Linked DNA regions of Homo sapiens. The protein of the gene in region 1 interacts with the protein of each later gene in a pairwise test. Each region holds a gene or a part of one and is shown in the gene's direction. Other genes may lie near its edges.

Region 1 (5,230 bases):
GGAGTGACATGACTGAATTAAGAGACAGGGTCTTACTCTGTTGCCCTGGCTAGAAGTGTAGTGGCACAGTCAGAGCGCACTGCAACCTCAAATAAGTCCTAGGTTCGAGTGAACCTCCCACCTTAGCCTCCCGAGTAGTTGGAACTAAAGGCATGCACCGCCAGGCCTGGCTAATATATATTTTTTTAAGATACGGGGTCTCGCTATGTTGCCCAAGCTTGTCTCAAATCCTGGGTCCAAGCGATCTTCTTCCTCCTGCTTCTGCCTCCCAGAGCACTGGGATCACAGGTGTGAGCCACTGCACGCAGCCAAACTGTGTATTTTTAAAGTTGTCTTGACTTGAGTGTGGAAGCCGGGAGGGCTTTTAGGAGGCCTTTTCAGTAATCCAGTAGTGTTGGTGAAGATCAAACTGGATCATGGGATAGATTCACCAGGACCTTGATGAAAGAATGAATGAGAGGGAGGATGGGGTGACCACCAGGTCTGTGGCTTGGGCAGCTGAGTGGAAGGTAGCATCTTGCTGAAATCTGGAGCCAACGAGGACAGGTCATTGAGGGAGCATGTTTAGTTTTGAGTATGTCGAGCATGAAGTTGCTATGGAATATTTCCAAATAGATGTTTTCAGGAGGCAAAAAAGTTCTTAAACCTTGTGTTACCAACTAAACTCAGAGATACATGGCCATACTTAAGTCCATTAAAGATTCTCCTTGTTCTTCCATCTCTCAGTTGTTTCTAAGAGTCATTCATGTTTATCTCTCTTTCAATGTGACCGTAGACTGTAAGCTTCACCTTTCTGCATCTGTTTCCTCATCTAAAACGAAAAGGCAGAAGATGATCTTCCCAAGCTCTGTAGGCTTAAACCTTCATCAGACGCTCTGCAGTTCTTTCGTTTCAAAGGGATTACAGGGTGGAGTTGGAAGTTTCCAGTCCTTGTTTTTCAGAATCCAATTTGAGCTCTTCTGGTTGCATATTCTCATGCTAAGAAAAAAAGCCTATTCAGATGTATATTGTGAGCCCTCAACAACATTATCCTCAGAAGGTGCAAAAAAGAAAAGATGTAGCCAGATTGGTGCAATGGGAAAGGATTTGCCCTGCCTCTCAGGAGGGATGGATTAGGCCCAGACAAAAAAGCCCTGGCCTCTTGATCTGCCCTCTTTCTGCTTACTGGGGCCTGGCTCACTCTGGGTGGTCAAGAGCCTCTTTTGTCAAGAGGAATCTCACCCCCTCCCTAAACTCCAATTCATCCCAGTGGGCCTTGGGCAGCAATCTTTGTCTTCTTTTTTCAGCCTTCCATCCTGTAAAGTTTGAGCAGGATGGGCAGTGACTCAGGAAGGTGAAACCCATCAGGGCCTTGCCTGCTCCTTCAGTGGGGAGTCCTTGTGAAGGGCTTGTGCTGTGGAAAACCAGTCTCTCTAGCTTTTGTAATTTTCTCAAGCAACGAAAAAGCAAACAAACGCAAAAAGCTTATTCTGCTTTAATACCCATTTCCGTCAAAGGAGTGTATGTGTGTGTTAGGAGAGTGCTCAGGCTCATACTGGAAAGTTAGGTGTTGGTGAGGACTGCTTCAGGTGCGATCCTGACCTGGTCAGACCACGTATCTTTTGATGTTTATGGTAATTCCACATTCCTTCATGATGGGAGAAGGGAGACGGAGATGATAAGATGTATCAAGGGATTTATCAAGTGTAAGTTCACCTTTATCTCTTTTAGGCTTCTGCCTCACTAATACGTTACTACTACTCAGCAATTTTGAGTTTAGGGGATTTCAGACCAAATCCTCTTTTCTGCTGGGCTGGGTTTTGTGCAAATATCAATGGTGAATTGTCTCTAAGCATCAGTAAAGAACTAATGGGAAGTAATGCTTCAGGATAAAAACAGAGAAAAGTCTGGGAAACATAAATTCCAGCAGTCAGGCTGACACTGAAATCTGATTCCAGCTTATCTCTGTTGCTTATCTCTTTAGGATCAGATATCTTAAAGGACATACTCATTTCATTTTTAAAAGTTTCTAAAGGAAGGACCTACTGATCAGGTAACCACCTCTACCCACCCCACCCCAGTTAGCCAGGAAGATAAGGAAGGACCACTGACAGGCTGCAGGCCAAACACGTTCCCCCTGAGGGCTCTGCCATTTGGAATCAGTTGTATGTATCAGTTTTATGGTCTTCTGCTATCACAGTGGGAACAGACAAGCATGGGCCACAGTGTACTGAGGATTTAAAAGACTCAGAATGTCTTAAAATAGCCTGGTCGCTAAACAACAATAATAGTTTGGCATTCCTGAGAATGGTTGTTTGTTTAAAATTCAAGGCATTGGTTCTGGTAGCAGTTAGTTTCCACTAGCTGGGCTCCCACGTGAGTTACTCTGGAAATCACATGGTCTCATCACAACAGGAAGCACAGGGATCTATTAAGCCCCTCCCAGCCCCTCTGAGGGTGGTCCCTAAGCCTTGGGCTACAGGCACCTACACACCCTAGAACACAGTAGATGCTGTGGACCTGATCATTTTAAGGACTCTGGTGTTGTTGCTTTCACCCTGACTAATAATGATCAGTCCACTCTTAGGGGCTTATTTCTCCCACCTAGATGCACAGGCAGTCTGTCTTTCTATCACCAAGTCCTGAGGAGGTAGTTTTTACTGCCTTGTTGAGAGGAGAAGGGAGTCAGGAAGGCCAACCAGCAACAGTATGTTAAACCACATTGTTGGGGTCCCATCATATCTGAAAATGGGTACAAACTGCCCTCTGAACGTATCATCAGCAGTCAGCTCCTGACTCCCTACCATCCTGAGAGAAGCTCGTGCCATGCAAGCTGGCTGTGGGGAAGCCTCACACAGGTTCTGCTACTTTCTGGTTTCGCCATAGAGCAGTCCCACATCACACCGAGCAAAGCAGTTTTCTGTTGCTAGCCCCCTTTCTGTATTGAAGAGTTTCGGGGGATGGGAAGGATGCAGAGACACTGGGCCTGGAATGGCTCCTTAGATGGTAGGAAGGAATAAAGTGACTCTGTTGACCTTGCACTGTAGACTCAGGGAAAGTACTGAATGGCAGAGTTACTAATGACTTCTATCAAATCACCTTTTGCTGACTCCCGTGTTAGTCCTGGATAGCGTCCTTGGCACACTTGATTTCAGATTTTGACAGGTGATAAAAGCACATATTGAGATTGCTGCTTCACAGGGCCCAGATTCCTTGCTATTGACTGATGTTATTTTTGCCTTTCCTGAGAAGCTCCCTCATGTGTTTGCTGTTACTTTTAATGGATTGCTTCCTGATACATGGGAGGCCCAGGCACTTGCCCTTCAATCTGGCCAACTGCAGCCTGACCTGGGTGGAATTGGAGCTGCCTGAGGAACACTTAGACCAGGCACTTGGCAATATGACTCACTTTTTTCCCCTAAAAGTTAGTCTGTAAAGAGCAACTGGAAATGTTCCTGTTTACATCTTTGTGGAGTGTAATTTTAATCAGGATTCTCAAGGTTTTTCACTTCAATTCTCTGAATTTTTAAGATCTTAAATGCCCTGTGGTCACAGTATTTGGCCCTGTACTTCTGAGGGCTACGTGGAAAATGCTTGATGATCATTACTGACTTGTCAATAGTAATTATGCCAATAAACAGAAAAGTCTTCCAGTTCTGGTCTGTTGAGGCCCTGCCGTTAAGCCATGGTTTTCCCAAAGGCTCTGCAGTGGGTTCTCATGGGATGTCTTTCATTGGTTCTTTCTCTCCCTTTTCCTCAGAGGGTCGCATTTCCTGTTTTGTGCAGGAAATTCCCACTGTTTTGGGTTCCCCAGCTACAGTCGGAAAGACATCAGAGTGTTCAAGGCGGAGTCCAGGCCTGAGATCTCAGCAGGCCAGACAGGCAGCAGATGCTTGTTGCTTTTCTTGTGTTATATTTTTCGTTCCCTTACTTAGCATTTGTGGGACCAAAGCCAACAAACAACAGGTTGTTAAAAGAATGAGAGTAATTTGACTTCCGACAGTGATTGGGGCTCGGGGTTGTTGGGTGTTTTGTTTTCTGATTTGAAACTAGCTGTATGGTAACCACTAACTCTCGCCTTATTCTTTTCTTGCAGATGAGCTCACAGTGCCTGCACTTTACCCCAGTAGCCCTGAAGTGTGGGCCCCGTACCCTCTGTACCCAGCGGAGTTAGCGCCTGCTCTACCTCCTCCTGCTTTCACCTATCCCGCTTCACTGCATGCCCAGGTAATTGATACCCATCGGCCAGGACTTCACTCACTTCACCACCAGTCCTTTCAAACTTGGTTCCCGAGAGCACACCATACAACTAACACCTATCCAGCTAACAGATCCACCCTCAAGAGATTAATGATCCCCTCTAAATCAAGCTGACACTCCTTCAGGACTGACGAGGATCGTCTGACAGCAATGATATCACCCACTGCCTGATGTTTGCCCCAAATGACACCTCTCTCTTCCTTAATGATCTCACCTCATATCGCACATGAGAGACCGGGGCAGGTTTATCCACCTGGCTCCCAGCTAGCTAGAGGGCATCACCAGAGTGTATACGTGTGTGCCTTGTGTGGAAGGGCTGCAGAGGAAGGTGTGTGCTAGGAGAAGGGGATATGTGCGTCTGTGCGTGTTTCTGTGTGTTGAGAGTTTTCCACTCTCGTGTACGGTGAGAAGAATCTCTGACCAAAGGGAAAGCTTCCAGGGGGGAAGGCTGTACTTTCTTAAATATGTTACAGGAAAGATTAAGGGTTCCTTCTCTCCATTTTCAGGAAACCCTGTAGAAAAGGAGATACAAGATAGTGTCTAAGATGGAATTACAGGTCAAGGTAGAGATCTCTATTCTGACCAGCTTTCTTTCTTAGTTAAAAATAGCCTGATTTTTATAAACAAACTTCCTGTTTCTCCGCAAAGATTACTGTCTACATACTAACACTTCCTCTCCCCTTGGAGAAAATATTTCTCTTAGCTTCGCTTTTAGTGCAAGTGGTAGTAATCAGTGTAAAGATTCACCTCTGGAGATCACCACTCATTCTTTGGCCTGCAAAGATTGATGACCAGTAACAAATAGAAAGTACGTACGTAGGTTTCATTTGTCTTTCTGCATGTGTAATTCAGCCTTTAAATTTTAAATTTTTAAAAATTATTAGGCTGGACAGGCAGAGTTTTCGTTTGCCTGTTTTGCTCAGTGTTTGTTTACAAGGCTGGGTGAAATAAACAGCTTCCCAGAAAACCTCCTTCTGACTTAAAACTCTTT
Region 2 (5,230 bases), on another chromosome or scaffold:
CATGTGGAATGTAGGGTTGGAAAGGATGCAGTCACACCCCTTAAATTCCTCATGGAAAGTAGTGATACAACCGGCTTGAGTTTATAGTGGCTGCACTGAGCTGCGAAGTACCATTCCTAAAGCCCCAGTGGCCCAATTTGGATCTCTAAATAATAGGCGTGTCTAAATCAGCTTTTAAAAAATTAGCTCTTGCTCATTCCAATAGGTGCTATGTGGTGACATACCAGAGACCTGAGTCTGACCCAGGAATACAGACATTGAAAGCTGTCTGTGTTCTTTGAATAGGCTTCTTTATCCTGATTTGTTATTGTATTAACTCTTTATAGTATACACTCTAGGCATTTTGGCAGCATCCACATGGCTTAAACTAGTGTTTTTACCTTGATAAAGAAAGAGCAGCACATTGGACTCCTTTATTTCTCTCTGTATCGAGCTCACAGAGATGTGTTTGAAACTGATTTCTGACTCATAGAAAATTATTGGTGACATCTAAATCAGGGTAATTACAGGGTTAGATAAAAACATAATACGTCATTCCAATGACAGCTTCAGAGAAATTTGCTACAGTGGTGATTTCTTCCAAATTCACCTGGTTATAGGAATGATCTAGTAAAATGGTTCTCGAGGTGTGATTTTCCTGACCAGGAACATCAGTGCCACATGGGAGCTTGTTAGAAGTGCGAATTCTTGGGCTCCACCCCAGACCTGCAGAATCAGAAGCTCTGGGGTGGGGCAATCTGTGTTTTAACCAGCCCTCCCAGTGACTCCAGTGCAGAGTTTGATAATCATTGATCTAGTCCTGTTAAGGACAGTTTGCAGGACCCCCTTATCTCGAATCTATTGAACTAGAATCTTCATAGGAAGGTGTGGGAATCACACTTTAACAAGGGCTCTGGGTAATTCCTATCATGAGGAAAAGCTGGCTACCTGTGGGCAGGGCCAGGTGAGCAGTGAGCAGTGACTAGTGGTACCTTCTGGGCAGCACAGGAATGGTTCTGCTCTACTGTAGAAGTCCTGGCCACATGGAATTGCTGGGCCTGATCTTTTCTTACCTACTTGACCTTTCTTTTCTTCTCTCCCTCCCTCCCTTCTTACCCTCTCTCCTTCCTTCCCTCCCTGTTTGCCTCTTCTCCTCTCCTCTCCTTCTTTTTTTTCTTTGCTTCTTTACTTTTCTTTTTAGTAAATATAAACAACACTAAACAGTGACTATAAAGGGGAAGGTGGAATACAAATAAAATATCCAAGGCCTTGATGGAAATGAACTGAAAAACATACTAGTTATTTGATTAGTAAATAATATGGGCTTACTATGAGAACTGAGACTTAGTCCTTGGAAGCCTATGATGCTTATGTAATAGACTAATGTCCTATTTAACAGGACGTGATGAATAATTTTAATAATTTGTAGAGGAAGAAAATAGGAAAACATTAGTGAGTTAGATGGCTTTAATAAATAATTTGATATATCAATAATGAATCCTATTAAGATAATCAGTGCCAGGAGAGTAATAAATATAATGTCTACTTCTTTTAGCACATGGGCATATGCAACCTTGCTATCATTTAAACTGAAAAATCAGAATTAATGTCCCAAATTATTTCTTGGTGTGAGAGTGATTGTCTATAGAATCATATTCAAAATAATTTTTAGTGGGATGTTGTGAATGTGCAGAAACCCTACAACACATCAGCATTTTCTCTGTAATTTGCAAAACACATTACACAAGTTCCTTTAGCAGATGTTAAACTGTAGCATAGAAAGGGTTAATAAAGGCAATGTTTTCATAACTACTACTAAAGTTTTCTTGGAACTATCTTAAATTTGATCTTCAAATATGTCTCCTGTTTTATTCATTGACATATTCAGCAAACATTTATTAACCTCCTGCTATGTGTTAGGCAATGTGCTAAGTCCTGAGACAGCCCAAGGCTCTACCCTCATGGAGCTTTTAGGGTAGAAACAGGAAACAAACAATTGTTACAAAATATGTTATTTTACATAAGGTGATAACAAAAGCCCTGTGTGGCACAGTTATGTTTGAGCAGATAGCTGAAGGAAATAAGAATACTCATCATGTGGTTACCTAGGGGAAAGTAATTCTACACAGAAGGGACAGATAGTGCAAAGGCCCTGAAGATGGACTGAGCTTAGAATATTCAATGAGAAGCAAAGATGCTGGTGTGAGGTGAATGAAATGCAAAGTAATAGGTGGAGAACAGATGCTTTAGAACTTTTTTTTTTTGAGATGGAGTTTCGCTCTTGTCACCCAGGCTGGAGTGCAGTGGTGCGATCTCGGCTCACTGCAACCTCCGCCTCCCCAGTTCCAGCGATTCTCCTGCCTCAGCCTCCTGAGTAGCTGGGATTACAGGGACCCTCCACCATGCCCAGCTAATTTTTGTATTTTTTTGGTAGAGACGGGGTTTCACCATGTTGGCCAGGCTGGTCTTGAACTCCTGACCTCAGGTGATCTGCCCGCCTCGGCCTCCCAAAGTGCTCGGAGCCACACTTACAGATGTGAGCCACCGCGCCCCACTGTTTTAGAGCTTTTTACATCAGTTTATCAGCATATACCAGGAGCACACAGCATGCGCTTCAATTTTCATCTCCTATTATCCCACTAAGTCTACAAATACCATATCTTCTTATGGTGCCTCATTTTTTCTGATGCTCACAACAATGTGTTTCTATGTGGAAAATCTGAAATAGATATGCATTGAATGATTAAGTGACTGAATTAAATGAACCAATTTCATACCATGTATCCGGAATTAGAAAACAAGAGTCTTTAATAGAAAATTTCTTGGTAATAAGTTATATGAACTCTTTGGGTACAGTTTTTTTTAATTTATAAAATAAGGGGGTTAAATTAAATAATTGGTAAAAATATTTTCTTCTGTAAAGTTCTGTAATTTCAAAGGTATTATTTGCTTTTCTTAGATCTTTGTCATAATTGTCTTAAGTTGTGAATTAGACAGATTTAGATAAATATATAAAACTTGTGTAGGATTTATAGGAAAGCCACAAACGATAATTAAAAATATAGAAAATGTCTTAAAGAAGAGGTTCAATAAAATGAGACTCACATTTTTATTCTCATAAAATGAGAGAGTTGGTGACAATTTAATATTAATTGGCAAAGCTACACAGGATTGGAAAATACAGTCTTTGGAGTCCATTTGTTTTAGATTCATGTTCCAGCCTTTACCTTCTGGTTGCAATGTGATCTTGGATTACTAAATTGAAATCTCTTACATCAACTTCCTCAACTGTAATATGTGTTTATTGATACCCATCTCATAGAGTTATTGTAAAGATTTTTAAATAATGTATATGAATAATTTAGCATAGAGCTTGACTCAAGGTGCTAAATGAAAGCCAGATGCCTTTTCTCTCTTCCTTAAGTAAGTTTCCACTCATTTGACACATAGAAAACAAACCCTGAGCCTTTATCCAGGAACATTGTTTTCTGGAACTTTGTGTTTTTGGTACAAAACACACAGTCTTAGATAATAGTAGATACTAAAGGCTAATGATAATGTTAGTGGCCATGGCAATGATGCTTAGAAAGGAACTGCTGACCGAGTATTAAAGGGTCTAGTTTACAGCATAAAGTTATTACAGTGCCACAGAAGTGCTACCATGCTACAAACAAATTTAATAACTGAATCGTGTTTGACTAAGAATATATTTACACGGTAAATCTTTAGACAAAGAATAGTGTGTCAGCTAATAATGAAAGAATGGTTATACTTTGAATGTATATCTCCTTCATGAAGCTAGGTAAGTTTTTTTAGGTGTTTTTCAGCTGTAAGGCAAACAATGATAGGAAGTATATGTATTTTACTTGGCACAATGTCTTATCAGTTACCTCTAATCCTGCTATATATTCTAACAGGGTTGAAAGAATTTCATTTCTTTCCATTAAGAAAACCTAACTAGCTGGGCGTGGTGGCTCATGCCTGTAATCTCAGCACTTTGGGAGGCCGCGGCCGGGCAGTTCACCTGAGGTCAGGAGTTCGAGACCAGCCTAGGCAACATTGTGAAACCCCATCTCTACTAAAAACACAAAAAATTAGCCAGGCAAGGTGACAGCCACCTGTAATCTCAGCTACTTAGGAGACTGAGACAGGAGAATCGCTTGAACCCGGGAGGTGGAGGTTGCAGTGAGTCGAGATTATGCCATTGTACTCCAGCCTGTGTGACAGAGTGAGACTCTATCTAAAAAAAAAAAAAAATAACAAACCTAATGAATATGATTGGTCCCTTATCTCCATACAAATATATGTTTCTTGATACCCTTCTCCTAGAGTTATTATAAAGATTTTAAAAATAATCTATATGATTAATTTAGCACAGCGCTAAACATTGGTTTCAAATATGCCTATGCACTGATCTTTACAGAAATGAGTCTGTGTGTATCTGTAGAAAAGGGCAGGAGCTATGTCAAGCCATAGCAGAGTAAATCACTGACTTAAAACCATACAGAATGCTAATCTTACTGATATTGCAGTTGCAAAGAAAATCATCTGTTGGCTCATTGATGTACATAGGGTCTGCTTGGGCAATTCATTCTCATGGGAAAAAGCTCTCAAAATAAATACGAAACCTAAATAGTCAAATGGAGAAAGGAAAAGGAGGGCCTGTCTGATGAGCTGGCTGATACTGGAAATGAACAGAATGTCCATAGGACCAAGACATGGGGAAAAAAGTGAGGCGTGACTAATCTCACCCTGCTGCCTCCAAGGAGTATCGGCCTCTGACATCATCCCTTGAAACTCTCATTGTAGAGTCACAAGGCCCATTTTGAGCAACTCTAGAAGAAAGTAACTAGAAGGCAATCTTTGGACATAATGGTAATGCATAATTACTGAATGACAGAAAACACTGGAACACATGTCATTTCACTTCTGACCCAGCCATTTATTTTTATGGGAAGAACAACAAGAGAATGGCAATGAAATTACAGCAAGAACACTTTAGCTTAAGAATTGAGTAGAATTTTGTTTTTTAACTGATATTAATAAAAAATGTAAAAATGTTACCTTTTAGCATTTAATAATCATATTTTAATCAATATTGATTCTAATGTGTTTTCTGGAAATTTTTAAGATGACTTAGAGTTTCTATAACACTTCATTGTCCCATTTTCCTTTTAATTTAGTTTTTGTTATTTTCAAAATTAATAAGCTGTATCATTCTTTAAATTTTGAATCTTATCTTTCTTAAATT
Region 3 (5,230 bases), on another chromosome or scaffold:
AGGCAGGAGCTTCCTCGGAGCCCTTGTGGTTGCAAGGTGCACTCTGGAGCACACCCATTCTTTGCTTGTCTGCCCTGTGGCCCCAGTGGAGTGTTTTGGAGCTGCTGGGAGAAGCTGTCCAGGGACAGACTGTCATGGTGGCAGTGGGCTGGAAACCGTTGTCTTTGGGGAAACGGTTAGAAATGGAGATTTCACAAGGTTTGATAATGCTTAGATGCCTGGAGAAGTAGCGCATAAGTAAAGAATTAGGCTGGTTTTGTAGGTGCTAAGAGGGTCAGTGGAGGAACAGCAGCTCCGCGGAGGTGGGCTTCAGCCCAGCTGGGATTTTGTCATTTTCTTCCTGGGGTGCACAAGGCTTGCTCGAGGACCTGTGGTGGTGAGTGCTCCGTAACTGCTCAGGCAGACAGGAAGCCGCCGTGGAGCACGCAGCACTGCCTGGCGGTGGTTGCTTTGGGACATGACCCATCACTGGAGGTGCTCAGGTGGAGTCAGGGTCTTTGGCTGGAGCCGAGCTCTCCACATGCAGCATGCAGGTGGGCTTGTTGAATCTCCTTTGAATCTCATGAATTTCAGATTCTGATTTAGTGTAGCTAGGCAATTTCTAGCATATTGCAAGTATCAACATTCTGTTAATGTGACTGGGCACAGTGGCTTACACCTATAATCCCAGCATTTTGGGAGGCTGAGGCAGGCGGATCATTTGAGGTCAGGAGTTCAAAACCAGCCTGGCCAACCTGGTGAAATCCCTTCTCTACAAAAAAATACAAAAAAAAATTAGCCCAGCATGATGGTGGGTGCCTGTAATCCCAGCTACTTGGAAGGCTGAGGCAGGAGAATCGCTTGAACTTGGGAGGCGGAAGTTGCAGTGAGCCAAGGTCATACCACTACACTCCAGCCTGGGTGACAGAGCAAGACTCTCTCTCAAAAAAAAAAAAAAAGAAACCCAACATTTTATTGTTACTTTAAAAAATGTATTCAGTGGAATCTAGGTACTATGGCAATTTAATACCTACCATTAGCTATTGGTAAAAAATACATGGAAAGCTTTTCTCTCCCCTCCCCCGCTCTTGCCCTCCCCTCTCTTGCCCCTCCCCGTCCCTTCCCCCGCTCGCTCTGTTGCCTGGAGCTGAGTGCCATGGTGCCATCTCAGCTCACTGTAACCACCTACTCCCAGGTTCAAGTGGTTCTCCTACTTCAGCCTCCCAAGTAGTTGGGACTACAGACGCGTGCCACCACACCTGGCTAATTTTTGTATTTTTAGTAGAGACGGGGTTCACCATGTTGGTCAGGCTGGTCTCGAACTCCTGACCTGAAGTGATCTTGCCCGCCTTGGCCTCCCAAAGTGCTGGGATTACAGGCGTGAGCCACCGCGCCTGGCCCGCTTCTCTTTAATAATCAATAATTTTATGTCTTTCATTTTTCTCCTTTCATTCATATCAACATTCTACTTCTCTCACAGAATTTCATCTTACTGCTTCCCTCCCCTGTACCCCCGAGATGGAGTCTCGCTCTGTTGCCCAGGCTGGAGTGTAGTGGTGCCATTTCGACTCATTACAACCTCCGCCTCCCAGGTTCAAGTGATTCTCCTGCCTCAGCCTCCTGAGTGCCTGGGATTACAGACCCCCACCACCACGCCTGTCTAATTTTTGTATTTTTAGTAGAGATGGGGTTTCACCATGTTGGCCAGGCTGGTCTTGAACTCGTGACCTCAGGTGATCTACCTGCCTTGGCCTCACAGAGTGCTGGGATTACAGGTGTGAGCCACCGTGTCCGGACTACATTTTTATGCTTAAAAGCTTTTTAAAATTAGTCATTATAATTCTCTGCAACAAAACTACGTGTATACATTGAAAATTAAAAAGTTTTTCTGCGCTCTTAATATTCTGAGAGTTTAAGAAAATTATGATTGAGACATCATTACAGTGAAAATTAATACACAGTACATCAAAGCAAATGTATCTCATTTTGATTAAACACAGCAAGTAAAATTTGTTGGAAATGTATCTTTAAGTGTGCGGATGAGACTTTTGCTCTATTAGTTTAATTACCCATGGACAAATATTGCCAGCCTGAAACAGCTTTTAATGTCCACTTTAAGAACTTCATTCATTTAAATAAGTTGGGGACTAGAAGGGGTTTTGTCATAGCAGCATCACGCCACTCTCAGGCCCTTTTGCATTCCATGTCGGAAGCCTCAGTTCCTAAGACTCACTGGTAGTGATCTCTGCAGAAGAGTGGAGATGCAGTGAGTCGAGGAAAAATGAAGCATTTCCTCTTCTCTGCTGTGGGAGTCGACAGTGGGGGACGGGGGTGCACACATGCCACACCAGGCAATGCCTAAGAAACTTCTCGTTCACCCCGTTCACACCTGTTGCCCCCACAGAGCCGATGATGAGCACCCCACCTCCTGCCAGCGAGCTCCCGCAGCCACAGCCGCAGCCGCAGGCCCTGCACTACGCGCTGGCCAACGCACAGCAGGTGCAGATCCACCAGATCGGAGAAGACGGACAGGTGCAAGTAGTACGTACCCTCTCCACCTCACACCTTGGGAAAGGGGGCTGCGGGGTGGGCCACGGCAGGGCCATGGCGGCTTCCACCGGTTCCGCTGTGTTTTGGGAGCACAGTGATAGCTTGGGAGGAGGCACAAGGTCCCCATTTAAAGTAGAGGTCATCGTGGCCATGAGCTCTTAACATTTCACAGGTGGGGGCGGCTGCTGCAGAGCCTAGGGATTGAAGCACATGGTGGGGTGGGGCATTCAGTCAGCTCACCTCAGTCCTGCCAGCAGGCAGGCGGGCAGTCAGCTCCAAGGGTCAGGCCGTGCGGTGGTCCCTGCCCCAGCTCGTGCTCCTGGGAAACATCGGAAATATTTCTCAGTTCAGAAGTGCAGGCGCTCTCTTACTGAGGGAAAGAGTAATTTCCTTCTAGGATCAGTGGCAAAAGCTTGAGGTCATTGTTCCCATGCAGCGTGTCCCTTGGAGTTACTCAGCACACCCAGGTTGGGCGGGCACTGTCCCAGCAGCAAGTCAATGTCCTGCCTTGCCCGTGCGGAGTTCTCTATTGGGGTTTTGTGACCCAAGCTGTGGTCAGCCTGATGCGCCTAGGGGCTTGCTCCCGGGTGAAGTCCCTCTACAAACACCTCCTGGATTCTGTGGCATGAGAGTAGGGCGTGGCTGAGAAGGAAGGAAGACTTTTCTGGAAGCTTTGCTGAGTGACTAGAAATTTTACATGCACCACTAGACCTCGCCTATGTTTTTAGTGGCACCAGCCCCCTTGGGCCCTCTGAAGACAGGTCATCGTGTGCCTCCGTGTCACCAGGGCTTTCTCCTGGAAACATGGTCCTCCACTATTGAGAGTGGGGCGTGGCTCTCATCTCAGTGTGGCTTCAGCATGCTGTCTGGAAGAGGGAAGGCTTCCGGAAAATTCTGGGGCTTTTAGAGGGGGCGTTACCCTTCCTCTTCCAAAGGAGATGAGACAGTTATGAATAGTGAATCTTATTTAATAAGCTTATTAATTTGTTTGACATTCACAACGGCAGTTCCTCTCATCTTGTTAGTAAGAAGTTCTTTGAAAGCGTTCCAGAGTAGATAACTTTGTCATAAGGCTTACATAGAACATTCTACAGGAGTTTATTTTAAGATCCATTTCGACTAAGAGAGAATTTCAAATAAGATAAGGAGTATTCGTTTCATTTACAGGTTTATAGGAATTATTTGTCTGCCCATATGTATAAACAGTGGATTCTTTGATTTTTTTTGAATCACATTTATTAGTGTTTACTGAAACTGTCTAAATAGTCATATGAGTGTTTCTTTGATTTGAAAAACGTTGCCTGCCCTGTTGTGAGTGTAGGCACGCCAACAGCTCCCCTGCTTCAGCCACACACTGCGTAGCCTCCCAGTATCCCCAGAGAGCTGAACGTATCATTTGAAAAGAGGTGTCATTGTGATTTTCTATTTCCCCTCTTTTCTGTGTGTCATGCACATTTTAAAATTTACTTGTTTAGTAACATTTAAAGATGTAAATATCTTTCCTGGGACCTATTGCTCCTTTGTGAAGTGCTGGAAAATGTTCTGTGTTACACAGCAGCCCCCCCTTACCCATGCTTCCACTTTCCCAGGCTTTAATTACCCATAGTCAACTGTGATCTGAAAATATTAGATGAGAAACTCCAGAAATAAACAATTTGTAAGTTTCAGATTACATACTCTTCTGAGTAGTAGCATGATGAAGTCTGGTCGTCCTGCTCTGTCCAGCCCGGGACGTGAGTCGTTCCTTTGTCCAGCATGTCCAAGCTGTGTGGCACATATGGGCGGGAAAAAGCATAGCATATATGGGGTTCAGCACCATCCACAGTTTCTGGCGTCCACGTGGTGGGGGTAGGGGGTGCTTCTTGAAACCCTCATGGATGAGGGGGACTACTGTGAACCAAAAGCTTAATTTAAAGAAGTGACCACAGACTATATTGCACTATTCAGGATTTAGTTATCTTTTTGAATTGTAAACAGATAATCAAGAACAAACATTCCGGAAGATGTTTCTTGTTTCCTTTGCTTTTGATTTTCTTCTGATGCTTCTTGGTGTCTTTTCTTGCTGCGGATCCCACAGGGACACCTCCACATCGCCCAGGTGCCGCAGGGGGAGCAAGTCCAGATCACGCAGGACAGCGAGGTGAGTCAGCTCTCGCTGCAGCACTGTCCCTGCAGGCACCGTGCCCACATGCTCCCGACCTTCATCGGTGTCACAGTGCGAGGGCAGCAGGGAGCCCCCAGGACAGGGAACGTGGGCAAGGGCTGCAGGACTCCGCTTCCAGGGTGCACATAGCGGGCCTGCAGTCTCTGTGGCCTCTCTGCCTCCCCCTCCTGTCCGTTGGTCTCCACAGCTTCTGGTCTGTCTTGGTAAAGATCTCCTGGGTAGATGTTTCTACTGCTGGCTGGAAGTGCCCTCTGAGTACCCTTCTCTCCCTGTCTGGCCCTGCCCTTCCTGCCAGGGGAGGCCCCCAGTGTGGCCGAGATGGGGTCTGCCCCTGCGTAGGTGACCTGACATACCCCCTCACCTGCCATGTGGCCCCAGCTTCCTAGTGGCCTCTACGGGATTAGTGCCGATTTCATGGGATGGTGGGGAATCCCACAAGGTGATGCTGCCAGTCCTGAGAGCTGCTCATAGCCCTTGACGCACCTGCTGGGTCTGTGATTGTCTCAGTTTCTGGAGCTCTACCCGGCCACGCACTCA
Region 4 (5,230 bases), on another chromosome or scaffold:
CACCTGCCTCAGCCTCCCAAAGTGCTGGGATTACAGGCATGAACCACCATGCCCGGCCTTATTTTTAATAGATGATCTAATGCCACAAAGACAACCTTCTAAGCCATGAAGGCAAGGATATGTATTCTAAATAAAACATATCATTTATCAAGCATCAAGATTAAACACACCGTTAAGAACCTGTGCAAGGGTTTGCAGCGAAGGGCAGGCAACAGCTGAACTTAGAATCTGTGTGCTCAGCTGACAGCGTTCTTGACTCTGAAAGTTTAAGTAATGAGAGTGATCATGCATTAGATTCCTTAACTCACAAATGGTTCTGAAACCCTTGCTCCAGTGACATCATAAATTTAACTATTAGAAGGGAAGGGAAGGGAAGAAAACCTTGGAAAATTTTGTTTGTGTGTTTTATTTGTTTATGCAATACATCCCTGACACTGATGGATGTGCCCATTAGTATGCTATTATATATTTAACAATTGCTTCTTGAATGGGGCAGCAGTAGGGATGTTTTGATTTGTAGAATTTGCAAATTTCTGTGGTATAAATGCTTCCACCATGGCCAAATTCAAGCTACCACCATGGAAGCACTAAATGCAGAGCTGGAAACAGATATGCAGTAGTAGAACATTACATATTTTCCCTATACAGTTACAATGGATATAAATAACCTCAAGAGCGTAACGTCTCTTCTATCTTTTATAATCTAAATTGAACTTGCTATTTTGAATCCAGAATCAAAAAGTTGAAATATCGCATCCCCATCACATTGTCTAGTATGTTGAGGGATATTCATAGACACACTAAAAAATAAACTTGCTCATCCTTCCATGGTCCAAACACATAGTGACAGAGACTCCAAACACTTGCAAATAAGCAAGGGTGAATATTCCCTGTAGAACTCAGCAAAGCTGACGAGCAACTCCCGGGAAATTGTTGCAAAATACCCTCATGTACTCTGCTCTGTTTTTCTTATGCCTTTTCCATAGGCTATTTCTACCATTCCTGGGGACTGTGAAGTGCAGCATTTTGCTTTGTTTTGTTTGGGGATACTAGAGAGCCAGACAAAGCTGTTCTGCATTGCATTAGGAAGAAGTATAAAAATTTTTAAACATTTTAATAATAGACTTTATTTTTTAGAGTTTTAGACTTGCAGGAAAGTGAGGGAGAAAGTACGATGAGTTGCTGTATAAACTTCTTCCCCGCTGCTGTTTCCTCTATTATTAGCATCTTGCATCAGTGTGTATTTGTAACAACTGATGAACCAATATTGATAACTGTTGCACTCCATTTTGTGCTGCTATAACAGAATACCTGAGATTGGGTAGTTTATAATGAAAGACATTGTTCATGGTTCCAGAGGCCAGGGAGTCCAATATTAAGGTGCCAGCATCAAGGGAGGGTCTTTTTGCTGAGTCATCAAATGGCAGAGGACAAGAGAGAAAAGGGGGCTGAATTCATCTTTTTATAAGGTCACAAATCCCACCCATGAGGGTGGGGTACTCATGGCTTAATTACCTTTTAAAGGTCTGAGCTCTTAATACTGTTACAATGGCAATTAAATTTCTTTCTTTCTTTTTTCTTTTTTTTTTTGAGATGGAGTCTTGCTCTGTCACCTAGGCTGGAGTGCAGTGGCCTGATCTCAGCTCACTGCAACCTCTGCCTCCCAGGTTCAAGCGATTCTCCTGCTTCAGCCTCCCGAGTAGCTGGGATTACAGGTGCACACCACCACACATGGCTAATTTTTGTATTTTTAGTAGAGATGCGGTTTCACCACATTGGCCAGGCTGGTCTCGAACTCCTGACCTCATGATCTGCCCACCTGGGCCTCCCAAAGTGCTGGGATTATAGGCGTGAGCCACCGCGCCTGGCCTGGCAATTAAATTTCAACATGAGCTTTGGAAAGGACAGACATTCAAACCACAGCATTAACTAAAGTCCATAGTTTACATTAGGATTCACTCTTTGTGTTACGCAGTTCTACGGGCTTTCACAAATGCAGTGTCGTATATCTGCCATTACAGCATCACACAGGATAGTTTCTCGGCCCTAAAAATCCTCTATGCTCCACTTATTCATCCGTCTCTCTCTACCTCCTTCCAAGTCCCTGGCAACTACTGATCTTTATGCTACCTTCTAGTTTTGTCTTTTCCAGAATGTCAAATAGCTGGAATCATACAGTAAGTAGATTTTTCCGACTGGCTTCTTTTACTTAGAAATATACATTTAAGAATCCTTCATGTCTTTTCATGGCTTGATAGCTCTTAATTAAATTTTTTATTTTGAGTTTTTTTTAGATAATCATAGTTTCACCTGCAGTTGTTAAGATGTAATACAGGGCTATCCCATGTGCCCTTTCCCAGTGGTAACATCGAGCAAAACTATAGTACAATATCACAACCAGAATATTGACATTGATACAGTCAAGAGACATAATATTTCCATTCCCATAAGGGTCCCTCATGTTGCCCTTTCATAGCCATACCCACTTCTCTCTAGGCCCCATCTCTCCTTAAACCCTGACCAATCACTATTCTGCTCTCCATTTCTATAATTTTTCTGTAATTTCAAGAATGATATACAAATGGAATCATACAGCATATAACCTTTTGGGAATGGCTTTTTCATTCAGTGTAATTCTCTAGAGATTCACCCGGGTCTTGTTCTCAATGATTTGTTCCCTTTTGTTGCTGAATACCATGCTGTGGATGGACCACAGTGTTTTTAATAGTTTACCCATTGAAGTACATCTGGGTTGTTTTCAGTTTTTGATTATCAAGAAGGAAGATGCTATGAACATTTGGGTATATGATTTTTCAAGAACACAAGTTTTCATTTCACTGGGATAAATGTCCAGTATTGCAGGGTAGTTCTGCATTCAGTTTATAACAGAATTTATTAAATTGTTTTCTAGAGTGTCTGTACCATTTTATATCTTCAGCAGCTATGTATGAGTGACCCAGTTTCTCCACATCCTCACCAGCAAATGGTGCTGTCATCATTTTTCATTAAAGACATTCTGATAGGTGTATAGTGATATATCATTGTGATTTTAATTTGCATTTCCCTAGTGACTGATGATGTTTACCATCTTTTCAAATGCTTATTTGCCATCTGTATATCTTCTTCAGTTGAAATGCCTCTTCATGTTTTGGCCCACATTCTAATTGGATTGTTTGCTTTTTTAATAGTGAATTTTGATAGTTCTGTATTTATGCTAGACTGTTTTCAAGGTTACATGTTTTGAAAATATTGTTTCCCATTCTGTAGCTTGTCTTTTCATCCTCTTAGTAGGGTCTGTCTCAGAGCAAAAGTTTTTCATTTTGATGATGTCCAGTTTATCAATTATTCCTTTTATGGATCATGATTTTGGTGTTGTTTAGCAACTCTTTGCCTAGCCCTAGGTCCCAAAGATATACTAAAGTGATTTTTCTTCCTTAGCCCATTAACATGGTGAATCTTTGCCTAGCTCTAGATCTCAAAGATACAGTAATGTGATTTTTCTTCCTTAGCCTATTAACATAGTGAATTACATTGATTGATCTTTGAATAGTGAAACAGCCTTGCCTCCCTGGATTAAACCCCACTGGCTCATGATATAAAATTCTTTTCATATATTGCTTAATTATATTTGCTAATAATATGTTAAGGATTTTGCTTCTACGTGTATGTGGGATATGGGATATTGTTTTGTAATTTTTTCTGTGTGCGTGTGTGGTTTTTTTTTTTTTTTTTTTTTTTTGAGATAGGGTCTCACTCTGTCTCCCATGTTGGAGTGCAGTGGCCTGATCTCAGCTCACTGCAACCACCTCCCAGGCTCAACTGATCCTTCCACCTCAGCCTCCCAAGTAGCTGGGACCAACCCACCACCATGCCCAGCTAAAACTGTGTGTGTGTGTGTGTGTGTGTGTGTGTGTGTGTGTGTGTGTTTTTGGTAGAGACTTGGTTTCACCATGTTGCTCAGGCTGGTCTTGAACTCTTGAGCTCAAGCAATACACCTGCCTCAGGCCTCCCAAACTGCTAGGATTACAGGCGTGAGCCATCCCACCTGGCCTGTCTGTGTGTGTTGTCTTTCTCTGGCTTTGGTATCAGTGTATTATTACCTTAATGAAATGAACTAGGAAGAACTCTCTTCTATTTTGGGGCAGAGATTATGTGACATTGGTGATAATTGTTCTTTAAATATTTGGTAGAATTCTCCAGTGAAATGATTTAAGTCTGAAGCCTTTTGTGGGGTGAGGAGATTTTTAGACTATAAATTGAATTGCCTGAATAGTTATATAATTAATCAAGTACTCATTTCATGTTGGGTGAACTGAGGTAATTTGTGCTTTTTGAGGAACTGGTCAATTTTTTCTAAGTGCTCAAGTTTATGTGAATTTATATGTAGAATTGTTTGTAGTATTAATATTCTTATTATCTGTTTGCTATCTGCAGTGTCTGTAATGATATCTCTGATTTTGTTCCTAATATTGTTAATTTGTGTCTTCTCTATATTTTCCATGTTAATCTTACTAGAGATTTATCAATTTTACTGATCTTTTAAAAACCAGCTCCATACTTCATTGATTTTCTCTGTTGTTTTTCTGTTTTTTATTTCACTGGTTTCTGCTCTTATCTTTACTATTTCTTTCGTTCTGCTTGCTTTGAGTTTATTTTGTTCATCTTTTTTTTTTAGATTTTTTGGGGTAGACACTTATTTATTGATTTGATACTTTTTTCTTTTTTAACTGTGCATTTAGTGCTATAAATATTCCTCTCAGCACTGTGTTGACTGTTTCCCATAAATTTTGATATGCTGTATTTTCAAATTCGTTTAGTTCACTGAATTTTTAATTTCCTTTGAGACTTCCTTTTTGTCCCATGAACTATTTAGAAGTATGTTGATTAGTTTCCAAGTGTTTGGAGATTTTCCTGTTATCATTCTGTTACTAATTTCTAGTTCGGTTTTATTGTGATCAGCGCTAACAATCTGAATAATTTAACCATTTTAATTTGTTGAGGTTTATTTTATAGCCCAGGATATGGTCTATCTTGATATATATTCCACTGGCACTTGAAAGAAATGTGTGTTCTATTGTTGTTGAATAAAATATAAATGTCAATTAAGTCCTATTCGTTGCTAATATTGTAGAATTTTATATTCTTACTGCTCTTCTGCCTAGTTGTTCTATCATCTGCTGAGATGGGGGGATTGAAGTTTCCAACTATAATTGTAGATTTGTCTATTTCT

What was found. Proteins that work in one complex are often made in the same cells at the same time.
Region 2: the proteins of RBPMS (region 1) and VGLL3 interact in binary tests that used the Homo sapiens proteins (3 or more experiments, as listed by UniProt).
Region 3: the proteins of RBPMS (region 1) and BANP interact in binary tests that used the Homo sapiens proteins (3 or more experiments, as listed by UniProt).
Region 4: the proteins of RBPMS (region 1) and MYOZ2 interact in binary tests that used the Homo sapiens proteins (3 or more experiments, as listed by UniProt).

What each region holds. Positions count from the first base shown.
Region 1 is NC_000008.11:30,540,419-30,545,648, forward strand, and holds part of RBPMS (RNA-binding protein with multiple splicing), read left to right. Parts: intron 1-4,075; coding exon 4,076-4,206; coding exon of another isoform or gene 4,207-4,353; exon of another isoform or gene 4,354-4,745; coding exon of another isoform or gene 4,746-4,757; exon of another isoform or gene 4,758-5,210; intron 5,211-5,230.
Region 2 is NC_000003.12:86,973,128-86,978,357, reverse strand, and holds part of VGLL3 (transcription cofactor vestigial-like protein 3), read left to right. Parts: intron 1-5,230. UniProt on the Homo sapiens protein: May act as a specific coactivator for the mammalian TEFs.
Region 3 is NC_000016.10:88,030,726-88,035,955, forward strand, and holds part of BANP (protein BANP), read left to right. Parts: intron 1-2,383; coding exon 2,384-2,520; intron 2,521-4,597; coding exon 4,598-4,669; intron 4,670-5,230. UniProt on the Homo sapiens protein: Controls V(D)J recombination during T-cell development by repressing T-cell receptor (TCR) beta enhancer function. Binds to scaffold/matrix attachment region beta (S/MARbeta), an ATC-rich DNA sequence located upstream of the TCR beta enhancer.
Region 4 is NC_000004.12:119,141,624-119,146,853, forward strand, and holds part of MYOZ2 (myozenin-2), read left to right. Parts: intron 1-4,627; exon of another isoform or gene 4,628-5,230.